2 linked regions of the Homo sapiens genome follow. The protein of the gene in region 1 interacts with the protein of each later gene in a pairwise test. Each region holds a gene or a part of one and is shown on either strand. Other genes may lie near its edges. The genes, in order: TACC2 and CLVS2.

Evidence for each region.
Region 2: the proteins of TACC2 (region 1) and CLVS2 interact in a two-hybrid assay, tested with the Homo sapiens proteins (one large-scale study listed by BioGRID).

The regions. Positions count from the first base shown.
Region 1 is NC_000010.11:122,208,851-122,212,671, forward strand, and holds part of TACC2 (transforming acidic coiled-coil-containing protein 2), read left to right. Parts: intron 1-1,023; exon of another isoform or gene 1,024-1,119; intron 1,120-1,546; coding exon 1,547-2,858; intron 2,859-3,821. UniProt on the Homo sapiens protein: Plays a role in the microtubule-dependent coupling of the nucleus and the centrosome. Involved in the processes that regulate centrosome-mediated interkinetic nuclear migration (INM) of neural progenitors.
Region 2 is NC_000006.12:123,009,686-123,013,506, reverse strand, and holds part of CLVS2 (clavesin-2), read right to left. Parts: intron 2,523-3,821; coding exon 2,348-2,522; intron 1-2,347. UniProt on the Homo sapiens protein: Required for normal morphology of late endosomes and/or lysosomes in neurons. Binds phosphatidylinositol 3,5-bisphosphate (PtdIns(3,5)P2).

The sequences.
Region 1 (3,821 bases):
AGACCGCTTTATCGTGTTTGCCCTCTTGTCCAATGACACACTTTTAGTTTTCTGGCATCCTTGACTGCCTGGAGCAGCTGTGACCTCAGAAATGCATGAAAGATGCCGCTGGGTGCCAGCAGAACCTAGAGTAGCCAAGCCAAAGCTGGGGCTGGCCGGATCCCCATGGGCAGTAGGGTGGTGGCACCTTTGAGCATCATTTGGCCAACATTTGCAGCATCTGCAGCATGTTTGGGAAATAGGAGCAACCTCCTTGACTGGCAGGGGCTGATGAGGTAGAAAAGCTGAGAGGAGGCAGCTGGGAGAGCAGTGAGACTAGGCAAGAGGCAGGGCCAAGGATAGGCAGGCAGGACTGAAGGAGAGGTTACAGGTGATGGCTGGAGCGGCAGGTGGCAGACAGCAAGTGCTACTACAGGTGCCGGGGGCCTCCGTGTACAGGCTCCCCTGATCTTCACAGTGGCTCTGAGGAGTCAAGAACAGGCTTGCTGGTGGCCGTGGCTAGTATGAATATTTATGGAAGCCTCCGTATGCCTTCCTGCAGGATTTCTCTGTCTTCCTGTCCCACTCTTGACCCTTGCTTTAGCCACACTGGCCTCCTCGCTGTTTCTGTAACGCACCAGGTGCTCCTGCCGCAGAGCCTTTACTCGCACTATTCCTTCTACCCAGGATGCTTCCTCCCCAGGAGTCCTCCTGTTTCATGCACTTACCTTGATTCTGGCCTTTGCTTAGATGTCTCCTCAGAAGATCTTGCCTGACTACCTTATTTTAAAAGTGAAACTCTCCTATCCCGGCTTTATTTTTCTCCTTAGCATGTATCACCCTCTGAAATTCTGTACATTGTTTGTTTGTTTTTGAGACAGAGTCTCACTCACTCTGTCACCCAGGCTAGAGTACAGTGGCGCAATCTCGGCTCTCTGCAACCTCTGGCTCCCAGGCTCAAGCGATTCTCCTGCCTCAGGCTCCGGAATAGCTGGGATTACAGGCGCTCACCACCATGCCTGGCTAATTTTTGTGTTTTTTTAGTAGAGACTGGGTTTCACCATGATGACCAGGCTGGTCTCAAACTCCTGACCTCAAGTGATCTGCCTGCCTCGGCCTCCCAAAGTGCTGGGATTACAGGTGTGAGACACCATGCCCGGCCCTGGTGGTTTATTCGCTATCTTCCCCTGAAGAATGTGACTTCCAGGAAGGGAAAGGTTTTGTCTATTTCTGTTCCTTGTTGAATCTCTAGTACCTAGAACCATGTCTGGTCCTGATTAGGCACTTGGTGAATGTTTTTGAATGAATACTCTGAGCTGTTCTTTAATCGGTCCTCATGATCCTCATTGTACAGATGAGGGAACTCTGGGCGAACCTGGCCTGGGTCTTGAGCTAATTACGGGTAGGTCAGGTTCTGTACCCAAGTAGTACACACAGTGATGGGCGGGGTGGCCTGGGGCCGTGGTTTGTCAACCCCTACGCTGGAGGGTGATGTTTTGGTACAAGAGGAGAGGTGCCCCAATGCGTCCTGTGTCTGTAATTGATGGCGTTGTCTGTGTTTCCCCAGGATGTGGTTCTGAGACAGTCCCTGTCCCTGATGGCCCACGGAGCGACTCGGTGGAAGGAAGTCCCTTCCGTCCCCCGTCACACTCCTTCTCTGCCGTCTTCGATGAAGACAAGCCGATAGCCAGCAGTGGGACTTACAACTTGGACTTTGACAACATTGAGCTTGTGGATACCTTTCAGACCTTGGAGCCTCGTGCCTCAGACGCTAAGAATCAGGAGGGCAAAGTGAACACACGGAGGAAGTCCACGGATTCCGTCCCCATCTCTAAGTCTACACTGTCCCGGTCGCTCAGCCTGCAAGCCAGTGACTTTGATGGTGCTTCTTCCTCAGGCAATCCCGAGGCCGTGGCCCTTGCCCCAGATGCATATAGCACGGGTTCCAGCAGTGCTTCTAGTACCCTTAAGCGAACTAAAAAACCGAGGCCGCCTTCCTTAAAAAAGAAACAGACCACCAAGAAACCCACAGAGACCCCCCCAGTGAAGGAGACGCAACAGGAGCCAGATGAAGAGAGCCTTGTCCCCAGTGGGGAGAATCTAGCATCTGAGACGAAAACGGAATCTGCCAAGACGGAAGGTCCTAGCCCAGCCTTATTGGAGGAGACGCCCCTTGAGCCCGCTGTGGGGCCCAAAGCTGCCTGCCCTCTGGACTCAGAGAGTGCAGAAGGGGTTGTCCCCCCGGCTTCTGGAGGTGGCAGAGTGCAGAACTCACCCCCTGTCGGGAGGAAAACGCTGCCTCTTACCACGGCCCCGGAGGCAGGGGAGGTAACCCCATCGGATAGCGGGGGGCAAGAGGACTCTCCAGCCAAAGGGCTCTCCGTAAGGCTGGAGTTTGACTATTCTGAGGACAAGAGTAGTTGGGACAACCAGCAGGAAAACCCCCCTCCTACCAAAAAGATAGGCAAAAAGCCAGTTGCCAAAATGCCCCTGAGGAGGCCAAAGATGAAAAAGACACCCGAGAAACTTGACAACACTCCTGCCTCACCTCCCAGATCCCCTGCTGAACCCAATGACATCCCCATTGCTAAAGGTACTTACACCTTTGATATTGACAAGTGGGATGACCCCAATTTTAACCCTTTTTCTTCCACCTCAAAAATGCAGGAGTCTCCCAAACTGCCCCAACAATCATACAACTTTGACCCAGACACCTGTGATGAGTCCGTTGACCCCTTTAAGACATCCTCTAAGACCCCCAGCTCACCTTCTAAATCCCCAGCCTCCTTTGAGATCCCAGCCAGTGCTATGGAAGCCAATGGAGTGGACGGGGATGGGCTAAACAAGCCCGCCAAGAAGAAGAAGACGCCCCTAAAGACGTAAGTTCAGGGGTGGAGGTGGTAAGGATCAGAGGCGGGGGTGCGCATTGGCTGTGACCCTTGGTCATGTGCCTGGATAACCTTCGACTGCCCTAACCTTGCCCCTGGGTGCTGTGATGATGCCACGCTTACGGCCGTTGCACCAAGCAGACAATGTACGTGTTTTCCTTCCTCTCTGCGGTCACAGTGGTGGCATTTTCCCATCCACATACCCCTTTGTGTCCTTGATCTTTTGCTTTAATAAATCAATGGGCTGGAGCTTTACTTGTAGCCAAAGACCTAATGTTCAACTCCAGAGCAATCTGGGAGATCCCATGGAAGGGGAAAGGTCCTTAGAGATCTGGTTCATCTCCCTGTTGGTGACTGATTGCTTTTTGGAGAAGCTGGGAGATACACCCTTTAAAATATTAAAATGTATAGTACTTGTTTCTGCCTATTAATGAGACATTAGCCCAACCTACAAACATAGTAGATTCCAGGAGGCTCAGGAATGAGAGATGTGGCCTGGGCCCCTCCCTGCTGCACTCCAACCAGCCCGTAAGAAACACCCTTCTTTGTCTCCTTCCTTCTCTCCAGTCATCTTTTGTAGACAAAGTCCCTGCAAGTTCTGAAGAGATAAATGGAACCTGAAAGTGGGGAGCAAATCCCCACAATCCCCAGGAAGCCATTGGTCCTTGGCTCTATGGTCCCCAGACACTTGACAAGGCCAAGTACATCGTGCTTAAATATCAAACACCCATGCCTCCAGAATCCACCCCAGGACCCGGCTCTAATGTGGATGGCTGCTGGTCCTTTATTCTTTGGCCCCTGTGGTTAATATCTTGGCGATTTCCTTACTCTTACGGGAAGTATTGTCAGTAATTTAACAAGGCTGAGGAGATCAGTCTCCCAGGGGCAGCAGAACAGACCACAGCGCTGGCCCCTCTGGGTCTGCCTGGCACGAAAGAGACAGAACGACATGTT
Region 2 (3,821 bases), on another chromosome or scaffold:
TAGCCTTTCTTATTTTTGGTTCAATCCCCTATAATTTTTTTTTATGTTTTTCTAAATAAAGGTGACATGATAGCAGAATTATGGCATAAGTTCTAATTGACTTATTTAAAATCTTCTCATTTCTTCATTTTACTGACTAACTGGAAGAGGTTTATTACTGTTGTGGTGTTGATGGTCTTGGCATGGTGGTGGCTGTGTTTAGCAACCTAAAACTGTGTATGTATCTTTACTTCAAACATTTTGTGGTCTTATTTTGATATTGAAAAAAATGTTTATTCATATTCTGAATGAAACATATAGTGGTACACAATATTTGTCACATAGCAAATGCAAAGTAAAACAGTGACTTGATTTAAAAAGTCAGAAAGTGTTACTTCAGTACGAGACTAAATATGAGATCATGCATGTCACAACGGAACATTTCTAGCAATCCTATATTCTTATTCAGAATTACCATTGTTTTTAGATATACATAGAGTAGACACAGACACAGATACAGACACAGACATAGGTATAGATGTAATTATATAGCATTAAAAAGTCAATTTGAACTTAAAATAAAAATGAGTTTAAAGGTTAGTAACACATCAAATCTATTCCCAGGAAGAGCTTTTTTCTCTTAAGTGGCGTCTTAATTGGGAATTAGGAGGAATCAACCCTTCTTACTCTGTCTTGTGTTCTGGGAAAAAGGAGAAAGGGGCTGAGATATTTTTGGGGAACAGAGAGAAGGCAGCTCCAAATGTGCAGCCATTACAGGTCCATGCAGAGAATGGGATTATTTCCTTCACTAGACATAAGCACAGAGGTTTCATCTGAGTGTAGTTCCTTGGTGTTCACAGGTAGCACTTAAAGAACTTCTGATAGTAGTTACAGCTAACAAGGAAGCTCCCAAACATCTCCAAATTGTCAGTTTGTTCTCCTGCAATGACTTATCACAGTATTATTAAAAAACTCCATAAAGTAGGTTGGAAAATAGCAAGAGTCTATTCTTGAAGTGTTTTTTTTTTAATTTCTTGGGAAAGAAAAATATGAGTTCTCCAGTCCTTCAGGAGCTGAAGGCCTAGCCTAGCTCTAGTGCAAAGAGAAGACACAGGTTAAATAGGGATAACAATTATAAAAGGCTAGGTTACCATTCTGTGTTAGGTAACACAGTGGGTGGTAACCAATCTTGTTCACAAACTGAAGAACACCATATACATTGCTGGAAAAAGGGCAGAGTTAGGACTGATTCTATATGATATACACATTTCCAAACATGCATTATCTTATGCTGTCTACCATCCTGTATTAACTGTCCCTGTGGAGGTTTTTAAAAAGCATTGTTTAAGATAAGAGAGGAGCAAGGCTGTCTCACCAAGAGCAAGTCAGGAAGCCTACATCAGGAAAAACCTATATGGAGAAGAAACATCAGTGTGTCTTATTCAGTCCAGAGGCAGAAATCGAAGATTTCCAGCACCTGGAAAAGTTGCCCACTTTTAAGAGGTCAGCAGTTATCAATTTAGGTGTGTATAGATGCAGTCAGAAATTACTAATGAGTAAAAATCTAGATGACTTGGGCTTACTCAACATTGATGCCCCAGTCTAATGAATTACATCACTCAAGGACTAACTTGTAAATATTTTTAGAAGTTTAAAATCAATTCCATAAGCATTGTACACAAAGTAGCATAAAGCAAAGAGAGAGAATAGAAGGACACCCTGGAAGTTAAAAGCAACTTGACAATAGCAGGTTTATGACAGACCACTAAATAATAATATGTTTCCCATCTTCTAATTCCCAAGTAGTTAAACATTACTCACTGGAAGAAGCACTATTCCTATATAAATTCCATGTGACAGCCCCTCCCACTCACAAAAAAACCCAATGAAGTCTAAAGAAAATTTAGAGAGATGATCTTTGCATCTTAGAGACCAAAAAACATATTGATTGACTTTCCAACAGTTGAACATATTGCTGATCATATCCCAAATTCACCAGGTTAAATGAAATAATGAAGAAAATATTTAGCTAATTAATAGGCACAGAAAAAAGAAACAAAAACAAGCCTAAATAGCTAATCATTACAATCTAAAAAATGTTGCTTGTTCTGATTTTCAGATTAAAAATCTCAGCTCATTACCTGTATTTGTTTAGACAGGGAGCACTGTACTAGTGTCACAAACTCTCTTCCTTCAGCGTTTCTTCTATAATCCTTTCTTCAGTTAGTATTTTAATGTTTGTGCTCAAAAACTACAGATTTTTTTTGTTTTTGTTATTCTGTAAGTAAGACATTTTTTCATTCTAACACATTAGACAAGAGAAGTCAAACACAAGAGACCAAGGAAGTAGGTAATTTCCATATCCTACCTGCAGGCCTTCAATAGCTAATCGCAGCATACTTGGTGTGAGTTTAGAGGCTTGCTTGAAAGTGAAGTTACTCCAGTCTATGATCAAAACAAACCCATTCACTTGAAGCTCAGGATCTTCAATCATGGCTTCTAAAGAAAGTAAGATGGCACGCAAAATATCCACCAGTGTGTACCTATCGGCGACAGAAAAGTACTAAATTAGGTCTGACAACCACTTTTCCAAAAAGCTATAAAATATTTTCTAGCACACTAAAAATTCACTTTAAAATACCTTCAGAATCTTAAGGAAATAATTTTGTTTAAAAACCTATTTTAGGAAGAGGTTTAATTTATATGTACTCCAAGAACATAATCGAATTTAACATGTATTCTGCCCAAACAAATGGAAACGCTTTTTCATATTTTATCATCATTTAGTTTACCTCCAGGCCTTCTTTTGATTTTCTAAAATCTCATTCAACTAACCCAAAACTAGGCATCACACGTTTTAAGTGGTTCAAGAATGCCTTCAGTAATATTGACATTTCATATCTTCGTATTTGAAAAAACTGAGAATGAGATTTGAGTGAGTCTCATCAATAAATGAAAACACTGTACATGACAGCTATCAATAAAAGTTACTCAATTCAAATTACTTGTATTGAGTTTGTATCATAAAGAAAAGGAAAGGTGGTAGGGATAGAAAGAGAAGGAGATAAATATAAATAAAAGTGGGAAAAGTCATGGAAATTTACCTACAATAATACAAACCATCCTAATTCAAGGGTTGGATCTTTTTTTGTTGTGTTTTGTTTTGTTTTGTTTTCTGCTTTTCACCTTAGCAGGTTAGTTCCTGAAACGTTCCAGTAACCCAATAAATGCTCTTTATATTACTGTGAAAGTGACTTGACTAGAGTAGAAAGACACTGGTTGGAGATTAAGACACTGCTTCAATGGAGGCAACGGAACTAAGAACAAAAATAAGAAGCCAAATTTGAGTGGCATTTTAGACAATCTTGTTATACTGTGACAATGTGAGGACTGAAATTAGGGAAGAGTAAAAAATGACACATATTTTAGCTTCAGAGCCTGAATACATAGTAAAATTTTTAATCAATATCAATAATGCAAAAATAGGATACTGTTGGAAATGGCTGGGAATACAAAGTTTTGAATAGAACTTATTGTATTTGAGAAACATGTAGTATACCCAGAGAGGTATATCAAGCAAGCTTCTGAAACAAATGGATCCTAAACTCAGGGGAGAGCCCAAAACTGAAAATTCTGGAATTAAAAGCTTATAGACTCTAAGTTCAATGAAGTGAAGGAGGTAATGCAGTCAGAGCTAAGAGAAATATCAGATAATTATTCTAAAAAGGGAATCCCTAGAAATCTCAGCACTTTAAGAGGAGTGAGAAATTTTATGGAAGATGTTAACAATTTCAATTTTTGTACACTTTGCATTTTAAGTTTTTTCCCCGGACACACTCAGG